5 linked regions of the Homo sapiens genome follow. The protein of the gene in region 3 interacts with the protein of the main gene of each other region in a pairwise test. Each region holds a gene or a part of one and is shown on either strand. Other genes may lie near its edges. The genes, in order: CHL1, CAPRIN2, FERMT2, SYT7 and ADISSP.

What was found.
Region 1: the proteins of FERMT2 (region 3) and CHL1 interact in a two-hybrid assay, tested with the Homo sapiens proteins (one large-scale study listed by IntAct).
Region 2: the proteins of FERMT2 (region 3) and CAPRIN2 interact in a two-hybrid assay, tested with the Homo sapiens proteins (one large-scale study listed by IntAct).
Region 4: the proteins of FERMT2 (region 3) and SYT7 interact in a two-hybrid assay, tested with the Homo sapiens proteins (one large-scale study listed by IntAct).
Region 5: the proteins of FERMT2 (region 3) and ADISSP interact in a two-hybrid assay, tested with the Homo sapiens proteins (one large-scale study listed by IntAct).

Annotation. Positions count from the first base shown.
Region 1 is NC_000003.12:203,256-206,773, reverse strand, and holds part of CHL1 (neural cell adhesion molecule L1-like protein isoform 1 precursor), read right to left. Parts: intron 1-3,518. UniProt on the Homo sapiens protein: Extracellular matrix and cell adhesion protein that plays a role in nervous system development and in synaptic plasticity. Both soluble and membranous forms promote neurite outgrowth of cerebellar and hippocampal neurons and suppress neuronal cell death.
Region 2 is NC_000012.12:30,727,443-30,730,960, forward strand, and holds part of CAPRIN2 (caprin-2), read right to left. Parts: intron 2,841-3,518; coding exon 2,797-2,840; intron 1,884-2,796; coding exon 1,206-1,883; intron 1-1,205. UniProt on the Homo sapiens protein: Promotes phosphorylation of the Wnt coreceptor LRP6, leading to increased activity of the canonical Wnt signaling pathway.
Region 3 is NC_000014.9:52,864,041-52,867,558, forward strand, and holds part of FERMT2 (fermitin family homolog 2), read right to left. Parts: intron 814-3,518; coding exon 707-813; intron 583-706; coding exon 361-582; intron 1-360. UniProt on the Homo sapiens protein: Scaffolding protein that enhances integrin activation mediated by TLN1 and/or TLN2, but activates integrins only weakly by itself. Binds to membranes enriched in phosphoinositides.
Region 4 is NC_000011.10:61,571,074-61,574,591, reverse strand, and holds part of SYT7 (synaptotagmin-7), read left to right. Parts: intron 1-3,518. UniProt on the Homo sapiens protein: Ca(2+) sensor involved in Ca(2+)-dependent exocytosis of secretory and synaptic vesicles through Ca(2+) and phospholipid binding to the C2 domain.
Region 5 is NC_000020.11:3,757,751-3,761,268, reverse strand, and holds part of ADISSP (adipose-secreted signaling protein), read left to right. Parts: intron 1-1,082; 5' UTR 1,083-1,168; coding exon 1,169-1,187; coding exon of another isoform or gene 1,188-1,262; intron 1,263-2,590; coding exon 2,591-2,733; intron 2,734-3,518. UniProt on the Homo sapiens protein: Adipocyte-secreted protein (adipokine) that acts as a key regulator for white adipose tissue (WAT) thermogenesis and glucose homeostasis at least in part through activation of protein kinase A (PKA).

The sequences.
Region 1 (3,518 bases), on a different chromosome or scaffold from region 3:
ATATAATGATGCCCAGGGTCTGGTACAGGAAGAGTCAGACCATTAGACGCTTATATGACTTGATTTTGGAGAGAACACAAATGTCTCCTCCCTGTAACCTCCAACTCCTGGGCTCAAATGATCCTCCCACCTCAGCCTCCCAAGTAGCTGGGGCTATAGGCATGCCCGACCACACCTGGCTAATTTTTATTTTTATTTATTTATATATTTTTTGTAGACATGGAGTCTTGCTGTGTTGCTGGTCTTGAACTCCTGGCCTCAAGTGATCCTCCAGCCTCAGCCTCCCAAAGTTGCATTAAGATTTTTTTTTAAGACAGTCTCGCTCTGTCACCCAGGCTGGAGTGCAGTGGTGCGATCTAGGCTCACTGCAACCTCCGCCTCCTGGGTTCAAGTGATTCTCCTGCCTCAGCCTCCTGAGTAGCTGGGATTACAGGCATGCCATCATGCCCAGCTAATTTTTGTATTTTTAGTAGAGACGAAGTTTCACCATGTTGGCCAGGCTGGCCTCAAACTCCTGACCTCAAGTGATCCACCCGTCTCAGCCTCCCAAAGTGCTGGGATTACAGGCTTGCACCACCACCTCTGGCAGGTTTTAAAACCTCATATTTAATGCCACCATTCCTGGAATAGGTATGCATTATCATCTAATACCTCAGTAGGATTCCTTTATGTCTACTTTTCCACAAATGGATAATGGGACACAGAACAGGTAAGTTTGGATGGACAACAGGAAAGAGTGTTAGTCCATAGTGAAGACCATAGCTGGAGAATCCTGCTAATCGAGGGGGCACTGCTGGGGCTGGAAATCAGACACTTCTGAGTTTGAATTCTGACTCTGGTACTGCAAGACATATTGTGTGACATTGGACAAGGACCCTTCTGTGTCTGCATCGCCCAGCTTACATTGGGTGTTATAATAGTACTTTCCTCAAATCACTGATGTGGAGATTGCAAAACACATAATAAACACTTGATAAATGATCAATGGTGGCTATTTAAGTATCTGCCTGGCACAGTTTCATTCCTGTCTCTAGCACAAAGTGGCGATCAATAAAAGCTTTTTATAATGACTGGTCACAATGCCTCATAGGACCCACACATACACGTGCGCGCGCACACACACACACACACAGACACACACAAACATAAGAACATGTATTATAGAATTCAGGATGCTTTGGAAAAGTCTATCTCCCTATCTTTGGCCAGGACTACGTTCAACTCTCAAAATATAACTGGTAACATTTTCAATTTTTCCCCTAGACAGCTCTCAGTTTATACGGTGACTCTAGATTTCCTTAAAAAACAATTCACTATCAGTTATACAATGTTGCTCTTTTCTTCCAAAAAAGGAAATCTGGGCTGTGTAAGGTGGCTCATGCCTGTAATCCCAGTACTTTGAGAGGGGCAGGTGGGAGAATCACCTAAGGCCAGGAGTTTGAAACCAGCCTGGACAACATAGTGAAACCTCACCTTTACAAAAAAGATTTTAAAAATTAGCCAGACATGATGGTGCCCGTCTGTAGTCCCAGCACTTTGGGAGGCTGAGGTGAGAGAATAACTTGAGCCCAGGAGTTCGAGGTTGCAGTGAGCGATGACCATACCACTGTACTCCAGCGCTCCAGCCTGGGCAACAGAGCCAGACCCTATCTCCAAAAAAAAAAAAAAAGAAAGAAAGAAAGAAAAAGGAAAAAGAAAACCTGAAAGCAATAGAGTGGGCTATGAACTGGGTTACAAATTAGGATATCTAAGATGATTTAATTCTAATTTTCACTACTGTAGGCAGTGTGGTGGAATAGTGGTAAAGCTAACTACTTGACCTTGCATTAGTTTTTTTCATCTATAAAATGGGCTAACAACCTGTTTCTTTTTGTTCACTATGTTATTGTAAAAGTCAGATGAGATGACATGGAAAAATTTTCTAAAAAGCATAAAGCACACAAATAATGCAAGACATTATGATTTTTTTTTAAAATAGAAATCTTCAGAGGCAATCTTCTGAAAGGATGGAAATGCAGCATCCAGTATCAGTCTTGGAAAAGGTCAGTATTTATCTTCCCCCTGAACCTTTTGCACATGAGACGTGTTATTTCTTTTGAACATAACCAATATGTAAGGCATCCCATAATAAGCTAATATTCTGTCACTTTACAGTTTTTAGCAAGGTTTTCAATGCAATAAAAAACCGAACTTCCAACAACTCTAACCGCAACAGATCATCAAAATCCCCACATTCCTTTTATCCACTTACATTCTATTACTCTGGGAAATACATCTCTTAGTCCCTGGAAATAAAAATTCCTCACATTAAGATGCAACCAGTGCATTCTGGTCTATTCCTTCATCGTCCTTGTTCTGATACAACTATAACAAAGAAGAAGGATACTTCCTCCAAAGATCCAGGCATCCAGGTTACATGAGTTTCAGCTGCCAGACTGACATTTGAGTGTATCTCCGCTTTCCCAGGCATCATAACTACAATCCCTCCCAGGAGAATCACCACTTACAGCAAAAGCTTTTGTTAGGGAGGAACCTCTGCTAAAAATGCCAACCATTACCATAGAAGCTGGAATACATCTTTTACATTATTCTCTCTGCTATGTCAGCTCTCATCTTAGAAAGCATAGATAATGCAATGAAATGGACAAATTTGTTTTGAAGTTTAAGAGTCCCAACTGAAACACACCACTGAATATGAGCATGCCCACTTCGGGCAATGAAAGAAAGAAGAAAGGAATGACAAAGAAAAAGTGGTGAAGATTCTCCTGAATACAAACTTAATGATTCCCTATTTTGTACTGTTTTTGTCAATTCTAGCTTTCCCCTTCCCCACTACTCACGTTCCACAAATGTAAAGCCTTCAAGATGTGCTAGGTATTCCTCACGTACTTCCCAGATTCAGATCCCTTTTCTGCCTTCCTCCATCCTGCTCTGCTCTGGGAGAACTGACCTCCACAAACCACTACAATAGGCTCCCTTGCCGTCTTACTGCCTTGCTGAAGAAGCAACTGGAAATCTTGGGGTAGAAGCAGAGCACTGTCTTGTGATTTGACAGTAGTTATGTTCCTCTACCAAAAGCCATAGGTCCCACGTGACAGCCCTCTTCCAGAGCTACTGCTCCCACCTCCTTCCAGGAACTTCACCTTCCCATTATCCCTTCAGGACAAGGGGCAGTAACAGCTCCAGATGTGCTTCAGCAGCCCTTGTGGGCTTCCCCTAATCCCATCCAAAGAGATGTGGGCCCGTCTTTAAGGTCCCTTAATTACCTCTTTGGAGTAGGATCTATATAAAAGAAAGGAACAAAGTGAAGGTGAGAGGAAGCCATGTTTTACCCAGCGAAGATATGTCTTTCAAGAACATCAAGGGGACAAACCACTGGGTTCTAACCTGTGGCATTCTGCCACCTGGGCATTCAGGTCCAATACTGTGAGAACATCAATCCTTTTAAGATAAGCCAGAAATATGAATTTTACATGAAATCTCCAGTATTTAAATGTTGGCTGAAATTTGTCTTAAAC
Region 2 (3,518 bases), on a different chromosome or scaffold from region 3:
AGAGGTCCAATGGTTTATCAGAAAGCCTTTAGCTAAAATGGCACAGATGTGCAAGGAAGACTACTCCATAGAGATAGAGAACACTGGAAGCACAAGTTCACATATCTCAGCAAATGAGGTGGTAACAAGTTTGCATTATAAATAGTAGTAAATAAGTAATTTACAATTTAATAAAAGGCAACCCTAACATAGCACTGTACCCAAGAATTATTCAATGTAAGTGTTATCTACCTGAAACAGGTTATTTATCCTTAAAAGAATGTGGCCTTATGTTTTAACTGAATCTTGTTCTCCAAAACCTAACTACAAAATATTTAATGCCAACAGTTTTCCTATCTTTGGAAAAATTCTCATTTTGAAATGGAAATAGAGAACTAATTCAAATCCTTCCCCCAATACTGAAATATCTGCAACCACCATAAACCTTCTTCATAAAGACCTGGGCTAAACTGAGTGACCATAAATGAGTAGAAGAGAAGCAAGAGAATATAGAAAAATATAACTTGTCAGAAAAAGTTATTCGTATAGCAGGTAAATGACAACAAATGAAATACAGTATCTCCCATCCTGTGACAAGCATTTGCATTACTCACTTGTTCACATTATGTCATTATGGTCTTATCTAAACTATCTACTATTTTCATATCATGTTATATTGTTAAAATTTGGCATTAAAACAACATTTTATAATTGCAGAAATTTCATCTCAGATTAGACTTAAAGACAGACTAGATTAACTCCCAGTTTTCAAGGGAAAACAATAAATCTACCCACTAAAGAGGGTGAAATATTTTATACATTAACTTCACATGGGCTTTGAAGAGAACTAAGGCCGGGCACAATGGCTCACGCCTGTAATCTCAGCACTTTGGGAGGCCGAGGCGGTTGGATCACGAGATCAGGAGATCCAGGCCATCCTGGCTAACACAGTGAAACCCCGTCTCTACTAAAAATACAAAAAAATTAGCCAGGTGTGGTGGCATGCGCCTGTAGTCCCAGCTACTCAGGAGGCTGAGGCAAGAGAATCGCTTGAATCCAGGAGGCGGAGGTTACAGTGAGCAGAGATAGTGCCACTGCACTCCAGCCTGGGTAACAGAGTGTTTCTCCATCTCAAAAAAAAAAAAAAAAGAGAACTAAAAAGTCATTACCACGACACCTTATTTATGCCTACACTTACAGAAGCAGAATGATACAGATCAACTCACATCTTTGGGTTCTGTGTTCAACTTCCTGGGCAGCAGCTGGTCATTTGGTATGAGGCTTGCTGTAGCTACTCCCCAGGACTTTGGAGAAATCTGTGACTGTGATGTTAAAGAGTGTTTTTGACTCTCAACATTGTTTTCCCAGGATTTTGGAGTCTCTGGCTGTTTTGAATCCTGTTCTTCACACATGGGAGTGGTCCATGACTTGGTGGTGTTCTGTTCGCTCTGCATGGAAGGTGTCCAAGACTTTGGAGTTTGCTTCTTTGGATCTTGTTCTTTCTGCAGCTGAACTGGCCACAGCTTTGGTGTCTCCTGTTTCTTTTGTTCCTCTTGAACATACCCTGCTTTGGATTTAGGTGTATCTTGCTTCCACTGGCTAGGAGATGGCTTGGATTTGGAGATCTCCTGCTTCTTCTGCTCTTCCGGCAGAGTAGACCTGAGTTTTGAGGTGTCTTGTTTCCTCTGTTCTAAGGAAACTGCAGGCTTGGATACCTCCTGGTGCTTACCAGAAGCCTCCCAGGACTTAAAGGACTCCTGTTTCTTCTCTTGACCATCTGGTTCAGTAAGCATATCCCAACGTTTTGGGAGATTTGGTTTTCTAGCATAATCTGCTTCCCAAGGTTGCTCTTCGCCTTGTTTGTTTGAATAATCTACTTCTGTCATATAGCGTCTGTTAAGAAACTAGATAGAGAAACAATGCACTTAAGTCACAAAATTCATAGAAGACCTTGGAGGGAATATTCAACTCTATTAGTATTGCTATGTCCTCTGATCTAAGTTGTTGCACTAATATTAAATTTCTGTCCTTATTCTACTTGAAAAGACTTTCCTACTTCTCTTTCCTACTTTCCTACTTTTCTGTCCATTCCTTTTTCCTCAATTAACAGAAATACAGACTTCGATACATCAAAAGTAGCAACTTCTGTTGGACTTGCCTAAGACTGGCAAGAATTGCTTGATTCGGATTCTTCTACCAAGGCTGTTCCGCCTTTGCCAGCCTTAGGACCATTCTCCCCAGTTGACTCCCTCAAACATTAAAAGGCAGAAGATAGTTCAACTTCAAAGTTAAATTATGTAACCTTAAACGTGACATTTCCTAAGTTACCAGTGTTTTCTTTATTTCCCTTATACATCAATGACACTGTTTTTGAATCTCCCATTCTTTTCAGCTTCCCATGAATTTCAATGTCACTTCAGAAAGAGAACAAATACCCTTTTCTGCTACCAATGTGAGTAAATTCTGGAGAGAGCAAAGTCCTGCGCATCTTAAAGTTCCTCTAACACAGGAGCCAAAAATAGCTATCATTTGGGCAGTTCGTGTGCCAGACCAAATTCTAAGTAATTTAGAATTTAGATCAACCTCTTTAATCCTCACAATAACCCCATGAAGTAGTCATTAACGTTATCCCTATTTTACATATGAGGATAACAGACACAGCTGGACCAGATTTCTTGCCCAAAGTCCCTAAGCTAGTAAACTGCAGAACCAGGGTTCAAGCTCAGGCAGTCTGGCTCCAGAGCCTTAGCTTCCAACCATAACCCTATGCAAAAGGCTGAAAAATCAACATCAGCAAATTGTCTTTCAGTATCTTACCTCTTGTGGTTGTATCTCTGGCTGGGCAAATTCCATTAGAGACTCTGGGATGATAAAAAGAATCTGAATAAATACTAGGTGAACTGTAAGTTTTTAGACAGATTACAACTATAATTCATTCTAGCAACATATTTCAGAAGACTCGTAACAGAAAAAGGGTAATATAATCAAGTATATTGATGGCAAGAGGAATTATATTCCTTGTTAGTCCAAAGCATGTGGTCTGAGGCTAGTTCAAACTAGTAGCTCTCCTTATGTAAGACACTTTACGAAAGTCAAGTTTCAGTTTAAAACTGATATCTGATTGAAAATAACACTATTTCTTCTTACCCTAAAACACAGCTTTTTTTCAAGTTAGCATTATAGCTCATGTCCCATGGGGTAAAAATTGGTCATCTCAGCTTGAAATAGAGCCCTTAAAAACCTCTTACAAGCCAGTTTAAGGTTAGGAGGGGATAAGAGAGTGGAGATACTTAAGCACTGCACTTAGTATTAAGAACTAAGGGGAAATAAACATGGAAAATGGTTTCGCTCTTGCTTATGGCTACCAGAACCCTGCCTGGACTACCTCCTGAGAAGAGGTATTTCTTTAATAAATCCAACTTTGGTAAACAAAAGCAGAAGTGCCACTTGCTCAAAGTATTTCTTCCCCAGGCAAATGATAATTTTAAAAGTATATTTTCTTTACTGACTTTAGCACTTTTTTCCCCTGAATCAGTATT
Region 3 (3,518 bases):
TACTTTATTTTCTACAGATTGAGTATCCATTATCCAAAATTCTTGGGACCAGAAGTATTTTGGGTTTCAGATTTTTTTGGATTTTGGAATATCTGCATTATACTTACCAGTTGAGGATCCCAAATCTGAAATCCAAAATGTGCCAATGAGCATTTGAGAGTCATGTTGGCACTCAAAAAGTTTCAGATTTTGGAGGATTTCAGAGGTTCAGATTAGGGATACTCTAACTGTATTTTATATTCTAACCATCTGATACAAAATTAAGACTAAAAAGTTTTGTTTAAGAGGGGAAAAACAAAGTTATGTACAAAATTATAAAAACAAACCAGCACAGTAGATGAAGTAAAATGAAGTAAGTACCTGCTTGTTCTTATACTTTTTTAGATAGCGGGGAGACACCAAACATTCAGGAGTTATATCAGTCGTGATCTGCTCTGGTATTAACTGAGGATCTGGGTTTAAATGCTGCATCTTCAGAAAGGAAAGAATATTCTGAACTTCTAAGTTGTAAGAACTGTCCGCCATGGTCTTGCCTTTGGAGGCTAATCTGCAGGCTGCCATCCAGTGTGCATACTGTTTTTCCTGGAGAAAAGAAATACTGATGTGTGCAATGTATCACGAGGTGGGTCTTTCAAGTATAAAATATAAGGATGACTGGTCAACTCATTTAAGAAAATTGAAGTGTATTTTTAACTGGAAAACTTACATTGTCACAACGAAGCCAGATTTCATTCATGCCTTCTGCAACTGGAATCAGGAGTTTAATGTTAAATTTTTGGCCTGAAATGTTTACATCTGGGGTAACTTCACATCCTGTAACAAAAAATTTTTATTAAAATGGCTAAATTTACTTTTAAGAAATCTCAAGTCAATACAAGCAGCCCTCATTCTGTGGCATCTTAACATGTTGGATTTTGCCATAGTATTTTATGAAGGCATCTGCTGCAGAAGGTAACATACACATATACTTGGGAAGCTGGAATGAAAACAACTGTATTCAGGCCAGGTGTGGTAGCTCACGCCTGTAATCTCAGCACTTTGGGAGGCCGAGGCGGGCGGATCACCTGAGGTCATGAGTTTGAGACCAGCTGACCAACATGGTGAAACCATGTCTCTACTAAATACAAAAAATTAGCCGGGGGTGGTGGTGGACACCTGTAATCTCAGCTACTTGGGAGGCTGAGGCAGGAGAATCACTTGAACCTGTGAGGTGGAGGTTGCAGTGAGCTGAGATCGCACCGTTGCACTCCAGCCTGGGCAACAAAAGCGAAACTCTCTCTTCAGAATTTCACTTTGTAGGAGGCTTTACAGAAGGGAGTGCAGATTTACTGAACTAGGTGTTAGATAATGGCATAACAGCTGGCATAAACAAGTAGTAACAGTATAATAAATACAGTGAAGTAGAGCTCTGCAGTCAGAGAGACTTGGGTTGCAGACCTTTCTTTGTCACTTATTAATAATAATTATGGGCCATTTAACTTCTGTAAGTCGACATTTCCTGACCTTGGACTCTACCTCACAGGGATGATTTAAGGATAAATAAGATAATACACTGTCAAAGCTTCCTAAAGCTTATTCCAATTGTCCAAGAATGACATGAACAAAGCACAATGTCATATGATCATGCAGTAGGCTCTACGAAGAAAATTTTAAATTGTTAGTAGGGCTTGCTTTTTCAATTCCTCTTGGCACAGAATATAAGATCATACACACTCCATATTCAGAAGAACAAATGTTAAAATTGTCATTTTCCCTGTCTACATAAATATTTTAGTATTAAATAAAAAGAACACTTTAGATAAAGGAGAGGCCCTCTTTATTCTCCTCCCCAGAAGCAACTCCTACCATGAATTTTGTAGATTCCCCCCTGCCCTTTGTTTTCTTTTTAAAATATTTACTACATATGAATTTCTTCTTTTATATCTCCTTTTATACAGGCTTTAGAATGATGAGAACATGTGTGACGAACTGTTTAATGTGCAAAGTTGAAACAGTTGTTTGAAAGTACACAATCTTTTGCACAAATATCATTAATAATTCAAGAGGATTTACAGTACACAATTCCATAATAATTAGGCCTCTTTTAAAAAAACAAGAAAACTAAACAGGGAGAGACAAAGTGGGTGGTAACTCAGGCACTAGTGTAGGCTCAGAGGCCTACAGGGGCCACATCTCAAACACCCATTCCATGCCACCTCAGCTACCTACTTCCACGGCAACCACTGGACTTCCTCAGTTACCCAATTAGTGTACATCTGAAAGATGAAATGCAAACAGCCAATTCTGGTCACAATCTCTAATCCTAACTCTTTGAGGAACCCTATGCTGCAACCCCTCCACTTTCTCCCCAACAGCAACAGAAGGAAGCAACAGCTCCCTCCTTCCCAACCAGCCTGGACCACATTCACTGGACATCAACTCCAACTGCCGAGACTCACTGTCTTCACATTATACATTCTCCTAGCAAAATCTGCACCCTAGGTAAATAAATCCCTCTAACTTTTCCTTGCCTATACTCAGGCTGCTTAGCACTGCAAGATGGGAAGAAGCAAGAAAAAAAGGTTTCACTACAGATTCATGGATACCAACCTCAGCTGGGCCCTTTATGCTTGCATCCTTCTGTGCTTATACAGACATTTTCAACAATGCCTATTTCAAATCTTCTCAGACATCCTACAATGTCACTTGGTCTCAAGGGACAACTCCACCTCTTATGTCTCCAAGAAAATGAAAGCCACCAGAAGTTAAGTCCATCCATTTCCTGCCACCGTACAAGATAAACTTAGCTGTCCTTGCTTCCACGCAGTGCAAGAGGCATCCCTCATCCTCCAGCTTTCCTATCCAAGTGGGCTGAGTTCATTACCATCCGAGCAACCCTGCTCCACCACTGAGATCCTCCCTCTCAGACACTACATTTCCTTCTTTCTACTGCCACATTTCCACCAGCATTTAATTTCCTTGAGTCTCTCCCATCTTACACCACAACCTACCTCCCTTTTCTGTTACCTCTTTCCCCCTTCCTTGTCATAGATAAAGTTCATTAAAAAGCTTTGCCTCCTTTTTTTTTTTTTTTTTAAATAGAGACAGGGTTTCACCATGTTGCCCAGGCTGTTCTCAAACTCCTGGGCTCAAGCAATCCACCACCTGCCTTGGTCTCCCAAAATGTTGGGATTATAAGCATGAACCACCGTGCCCAGCCATTTTTGTTTCTTATTTACTTCTCAGTGACTGTACTTTGGCTCCATACTCAATAAACCACTGAAGTCTACTTAACTTGTTCTTATCAAGGTCATGAACTACATGGCTAGATACTATGTTGGCCTAACTACCTTACTTTACTACAGTACTGGACATTGTTGACTACTCTGTCCTTTTGAAACAACTTTTATCTTAGCTTTCATCATACTTCACTGCCATAGTCTTCCTATGCATTTTTTTTTTGTTTCCTTTGCAAGGTCCCCTTCTTCTAACCTGCCCTGTCTCTTAAACATGGGTGATCTGCAGGGTTCTATTCTTCA
Region 4 (3,518 bases), on a different chromosome or scaffold from region 3:
CCTTGGAAACACTTTCTCCAGGAATGGGGGTTTTGTGCTTTGCAGAGGGACCAGCTTAAGGAATCCCGTCTCAGGTCACCAAACACATCCTGTGTCCTCCCCTGATAATAACAATAGTATGATAATAGCAAGCCTTGTGGAGCACTCAGTATGTGCTGAGCACTTTACATATGTGCCTCCAGGGACAGCTTGCTTGAGCTAGGGCTCTAGTGTCAAACAGCTATTGATTTGAATCCTGGCAGAGACACTTGCTGCTCTGTCTCTGGAGCAGGTCAGCCCACCTCTCTGGCCTTGGGTTTCCTCTTCTGTTAAATGGGTATGATGATGGTTCTTACCTCCCAGGCGGTTGGAAGATGAGGTGAGATAAGGCAGAAAAAGTATTTAGCAGAGAGCCAGCCCATAGTAAACACTCAGCCAGCGGTAGCTGTTCTCAACATTGTCCTGTACCAAGCAATTGATGTGTGGGATGAGGGTTCTGGATCCTCCAAGGAGAACATGCCTGCTACCTCCATGGTGGAGGAGTTGGGGAGGGCTTCATGGAGGCAGTGTCAGTTAGGTTACCATCAGAATAGCAGAGACATGTTGTGTGCTCACTATGTGCCAGGTGCTGTTCTAAGCACATAACATGCGTTAGCGCCTCCATCCTCAGAACCACCTTGGGAAGTGCGAACTTGCAGTTAGAAGTAGGTCTGGGATTCCAGCCACGCTGCCAGACCTAAGGGTGTGAGCTTCAGATACAGGGCCTTGAGTCCTGAAGGAAGAATAAGAGCTTTGCCATGTGAGCGAGCAGAGGTGAGGCAGTTGGTGAGGTGGGGACAGCACATGCAGTGGCTCAGAGGTTCGAGGGATCTTGGCCGGTTGAGGCAGCAGGGAGTGCTTGAGCATGGCCAGAAGGGAGACCTTTGGGGCACAGTAGCAGGAAGTGAGGCTTGGGAAGGTAGGTTGGGCCAGATTATGAAGGAGTTGGCATTTTGAAATAGGAAAACTGAAATTCTTTTAAAAAGTAAGGCATGGAGTGCCATGGATGGCTTTTGAGCAGATCTCTATAAAGAACTTTGACAGCACGGTAGTGTGGAGGGTGGGAAGTCAGGAGGCAGGTGGGTAGATGGAGCTAGAATCTCAGCCATTAACATATCTGTCCCTACCTCTGCCAGGAGATCTGCAGTGTCCAGCCAGCCTGGACCCCTGCCCTTGGAAAGCTTGCAGCAGATTATAGGCAGTAAGGGGGTAGCCGGATGCAGGTGGGCATGAATGAACACCCTGAGGGGGCTTCCCAGGTGCCTGGGGTATCAGAGAAAGCCTCCCTAGTGAGGGATATAGAGCCAAGATGGGCAGGCCCAGGGCCCTGTGGACACAGTTAGTCCTTTTGAGGATTTGTTCTGTACCCACATAACCCCCCCAGGCATCAGGGCCAGGCCCAGGAGGGGCCACACAGCTCCTGCTCCAGCTGCCAGGCCTGAGCTCCAGAGCCCCACCAAAGCCAACCTGTCTCCATGGCAACTAGACGGGCCACCCCCCCTCTCCATGCCCACGGCCACTGGCACAGGGACCCATTCACAGCGGGGCCTGGTTATGTCTTCCCACTTCCCTTGGGGGTCATCCCAAGGCAAACGCCCTCACACTGAGGCGCTGGCAGCACACATGCATGTTGGCATTTGGGTATGTATGCACACATGATGTGTATGTGTGTGTGTCCTGCAGCAGGAAGCAGGGAGGTGGGGACCATCTGTGTTGACTACCCACCTTAGTTGGAAATTTGTTACCCCTGAGTGGGGGTCAGATGGGTGCCAAGGGCCCTGACGCCAGGATGAACTGTGGGCTCCTGTCTTGGAGATTGCAGTGAGAAAGCCAGCCCAGAGAAGGGGCAGCTAGGAGAAATGGAAGGTCAGGGAAAGCTGCAAGGGAGAGGCTCCCAGTGGTGCCTGGTGGGTCCACAGACCACCTTGTTCTTTCCATTCATCATGTTATGTCATCTTCACAGCAGTCTTGCAAGGGAGATATCCAATTCACTGCAGTGCAAATGAGGAAACGGAGACTCAGAGAGGTTGAGTGTCTTGCCCGGGTCACTCAGTAGAGCAGGAATAAGATTGCAAGTCGGCCTCACTCCAAAGCCTGGGTCTTAACCACTGGGCTACGTTGCCTGGTGCCTCCTTATCCTACTAGGCTCTAAGCCAGCCCGTCTCTCAGCCCGTCTCTCAGAAGGGAGCACTACGAGTTGGTACTGGCTGCAGAGCTGGACTCAAAGGGTGTCCCAGTGCCTCTTCTAATTCTAGGGTATCCCCTAAAGCCTTTGTTCTTCCTGGAGTGGAGGGGAGTCTCCTTCCTACCCTGTCTCCATTCTCTCTACTGGCAAGGTGGAGGGATCCTCTCACTCATGGGGGAGGCTCTCAGGAGAAGGGGAGGAACCCCTCTCTCCCTCCTTGGCACCTGCCAGCCCTGGAGGAGCCTGATGAATTGTCTGTGTGCCCCCCCCCCAACCTCATTCCTCCCTCTCCAGCCCCCGCCTGGTTGGGGAGGTGCGAAGGGAGTGATTTCACAGCCTGTCAGCTGAGGCCTAAAAATACCCAGAACTCTAAGATGCTTGGGCAGGGGGAGGAGAGAGCAGGGACCGGGGATAGGGTGGTGAAGGGTGCAATGGTAACTTGGTCAGAGGAGCCCAGGTGGCAACACAGTCCTGCTCAGGAATGATGGGAGACCCTCTGTCCCCAGGGTCCCCATCTGACCCCATACCTGGCAATGACAGAGAGGGCCAGTGTCTCGAGGGTCTTGAGAGCTCAGCTCTGGCACTCAGACCTAAGGGAGGGCTTAGTCTCAGATAGGAGCCATTGTGGACCCCAGGCCCCCTGGAGCCTCCAGTTGATGCCTTTCTCTCCCTCTCCACCCCCAGGTTGGCTGGCATCTTTGGGCCGTGGGAGCCAGGCTGTGCCTGAGTCTGCTTCCTTCCTGGAGAAGGTGCCCGCTTCTGCTAGGGGAGAGGCGTGAGGAAGGCAGTGTGGATGGGGGTGCCGGCAGGTGCGGGATGTGACGTGCCAGCCACCCAGGCACTAGAAGGAAGCAGAGGAGAAGGGGTGTGGTGGCCCACGTCACTGCCACATGGCTGTGTGCTGCAGCATGGCACATGGCCCCCACAAGTCAACCACTGCTCAGAGACGGGAACACGTGTATATGTGTGTGTGTGCATGGACCTGCTAGAGTCAGCTTGTTCTGGTGCTGGGATGCTTGTGGACATATGTGACCCAGCCTGGCTACTTCAGGTAGAAATTGGGTGGAGGCACAGGAGTGGGTGTGGGAGCATGAGCTAACACACCTCACTTCATGCAGATGCATGACTGTGTGTGTGCTTCCCATGTGGAAACACGATGGTAGGTGTGTCTGTGCAGAGGCACATGGGCACACATCGCTGGGGCGCCAAGCAGGGGCTGAGAGGGTTCTTAGGGAAAGAATGCAGAGTGGTGGCCAGGGCACAGGGGCTCTGGATCAAAAGTAATGAGGCTCAAATCCCAGATGTGCCTTGTGCT
Region 5 (3,518 bases), on a different chromosome or scaffold from region 3:
TCCCCTCTGGTTTAGCATCCACTGGTTCTTGTTGCCTCCAGCATTTGTTCCTTTAGGGGTTGCAGAATGACTTAGCATTTGGTCATTTCTTTGTTATTTATTAGCAAGAATTCTTTCCGAAAGAAGAGCTTTCCATCAACCACCAGGGCAATTTGGTTACAAGAAAGGCCAAGAGACAGGCTGAATTCTTCCTCTTTAATCCTCAGCTTTCAGAGTAAAGAGGGCACTGCTACCGTCAGTGGTGACAAATGAGGGCTTTTGAGGGCTTGGGTTTGTTTGTTTTGCTTTCTCTCTTCTTTTCTAATAATCTCTGTGAATGCACTGCTTTTATGTGTTCCATCTGTTTCCATCAGTTGCACTCATTATTCTTTTTGATGCTCAGATGGTCCCAGCTCGGCCCATTGGAGGCTTCCTGGGGCGCCTCTCACTGCCCCTGTGCTGAGGCTGCCGTTGGGGAGCTGAGGCGGAGGCAGGCCTGAGACTCAGGGCAGGGTCTGAATGGGGTTCAGGTGGGGGCACACCCCCTCCACAGGCATCTGTTTTGCATATGGCCCTGACCGATCACCAGGAGGGAAAGCTCTAAGGGCACGCTTACTTTATGTGGTCCCCTGTTCTTGCCCACCATCGAGCACCCTGTTGCCTCTGACCGCACCCAGCTGCATTGCTTGTGTGACCTGAATAAGGTAGCTCCAGGCCCAGCCTTTGGGGTCAGCAGCACCAGAACTGGTCCCTGGAAAATACCAATAAAGTCCTCCTTTCCAGGCTGCCCCTCCTGCCAGTCTCTGGGGGTGCTGGGGATAGGAGTCCTATGCTGTTGCTTTGGCACCTAGAAGCTGCAGCTCAGCACATGCTGGCAGGACCCTGAGTCACTGGGGTATCAGGAAGGGGTGAGGGCTCTTGGTGAATGTGGGCAGTCGGTAGAGGGTGGGCAGAAGCCCCCGTGCTAGAGAGTACAGGCACCACTTGGGCTGCTGAGAGCGGTAGGGGTTTGAGTCCTTCCTAAAGGGAGCTCCTCTGGTGTCCCTGAGCCATGGGTCCATGAGTGGCCCTGACCCCTGCCCTCCCCACTCCCTATCCTTCAGGCTCCCGCTGGTGTCCCTGGAGCATGGGAGGCTGCTGAGCGTGAGTGGCGGTGTCTGGCAGGAGCTGCGTGGCAGGGAGGGCGTCCATGGCTGCAGCCAACAAGGGTAAGTGCCTTCCTGGCGTGGTAGGACTTGCACAAGCTCTTCCGGTGGGCCCTGGTAGGAGGGCCATTGCTGCAGGTAGGGCCCGCACCACCTGTGTGTGTGTGTGTGCATGTGTGAGTGCGTGTGTGCTGGTGTGCGAATGTGATTGGGACTATGTCAGTGTTTGTGCCAGGTTCTGGGGCTCACGCAAGCCCTAGCAGGACCCCTGCAGAGCCCTGCTGACTCCTTAGGCTGGTCTGTGGAGGTGTGTGCTCTTGTGTCCCTGCCGTTCCACTGTGGGGGTTGGGGGAGCCGAGGGGCTTATGGTGAGCACTGAGACTGGTGATGTGGGAGGGCCACAGCAGGCTGTGGAAGGGAGTTTGGGTTTCTTTCAGAGTCCAGAAGGGATAAGGGAGGGTTTTAGGCCAGGGTGATCTGGTGAGATTTGAGGGTTCTGTGGGGCTCACCAGGGATTGTGGATGTGCCAGGCTGGTCCCCTGGGCCTCCGAGTATCCAAGAGGCCGGCTCAAAGCTGGATCAGGTCCTCCCGCCAAGAGGACCCTGGGCAGGGCTCTTGGTGGGAGGGCCTAGGGGCCAGGGGTCAGAGAGGACTAGGGCCGTGCTCTCGGCCTCTACAGCCTGAGCATTCATCCAGTCCAGGCCTTCAGCTCGGCTCCCGCCTACCCTGCCTGTCTCATCCGTCTGCCCTTTCTGGCCTTGGAGAACCCGACCCAGCTCAGAGACAGCTGAGGGCCTTGATGGTGGGCTAGACAGAGGAAGGAAGGGGGTCTTGAGGTGGGTCTGGAAGCTTCCTTGGATTCTCTCTTCTTGCTGCCAGGGGCCAGTGAGGTTTACTGGCAGCTGCAGCCTCGCCCAGGTGGCCTGAGTGTGTTTTTTGATCCCCCCTGTTTCTGCCACCCCAGGCAGATCCCCCAGAGCCTGTTCCTGTCCCTGCCCTTTCAGGTTTGGGTCATGAGGATGGGCAGGCAGGGGCCTCATGCACTGACACAGCTTAGGGGTAGGCCCCAGGGATGGGGAGCTTTGCACTGTGAAGGAGAGCACTGGGCAGGGTATCCAGAGGACTGGGCTGAGTCCCACGCTGCCCTGGCTTGGTGGGAGTCTGGAAGACTGTCCCTTCCTGGCTCTGGCACCAGCCCCACCCCCTCCAAGCAAGGGTCATATTAGCCAGTCCCTGAGTCCCCCCACGCTCACTCTCAGGGGATGGATTTTTGTGGGAGGGGCAGGTCGGGGCCGGCGGGGAGGCCTCAAGCCTCATGATCCTAGTGTCCATCTAGCCCTGAAAAGAGCCCAGCCAGTGGGAGCTGGATGATGTCAAGGGCAGTCTTGGGGGTGACGAGGGGACAAGGGGGAGGAGTTTCCTGGGGACAGGGAAAGCCCTCAGAGCCCTCTCCCACTCTTCCTAGGCAACAAGCCCAGAGTCCGGAGTATCCGCTTTGCGGCAGGCCACGATGCAGAAGGATCCCACAGCCACGTCCACTTTGATGAGAAGCTGCATGACTCGGTGGTCATGGTCACCCAGGAGAGTGACAGCAGCTTTCTGGTCAAGGTACATGCACACCTACCCCATCAGCAGCTTCTTCCCCTCCCCGGCTCTGCCTGGCTTCTGGGTGCCTATCCCCGTTCCTCTCAGCCGGGCTTATAGGCATGTCTGTGCCTTTCCCTGTGCCTTGGTTGCCCCATCTGTCAGATGGGAGGCAGTGAGATTTCAATGAGATGAGAGCATTTAGAATGTCATCCAGATCAAGATGAGCAGAGCCACTGCTGTCATCTGCTTCACCCAGACAATAGCAATGGAAGGCAGTGTCGTGGCTGTGGTGCCAGTGGCCTGAGTTCAGGTCTAGGCCAGCCATTCTGGCTCTGTGACCTTGGGAAGGTCACCTGAGTTTCTTTTCTCTCAAGTGGAGACAATCACATCCCCTAGAGTTGGTGTGAGAATGGAAGAATGTATGTATGTGATACAGGTGTGAAGCTAACTATGGCAATAACAAGGTGCAACTTTTTTTTTAACCCTTCTTTGCCAAATCTCTGGCTCAGTTAGGCTCTTTGAAGTAGTATTATCACCCCCTGTTTTCTGCTTGGTGGAGCTGGATTGGGGAAAATGGAGACTGAGGCCTTCAGGTTGGTCAATAAATCAGGGGTCCAGAGTTGAACAGGAGTGCCCTTGGGTCGGGGGAGGTCTGGCCCATTGAGATGGCCCTGAGTGGGGGGTCTGCTGCGCTGCTCAAAAGGGGCCCAGGTTTAGCCTGGCCAATGGGTCGAAACCCGTCTCTACTAAAAATACAAAAGTTAGCTGAGCGTGGTGGCGCACGCCTGTAGTCCCAGCTACTTGGG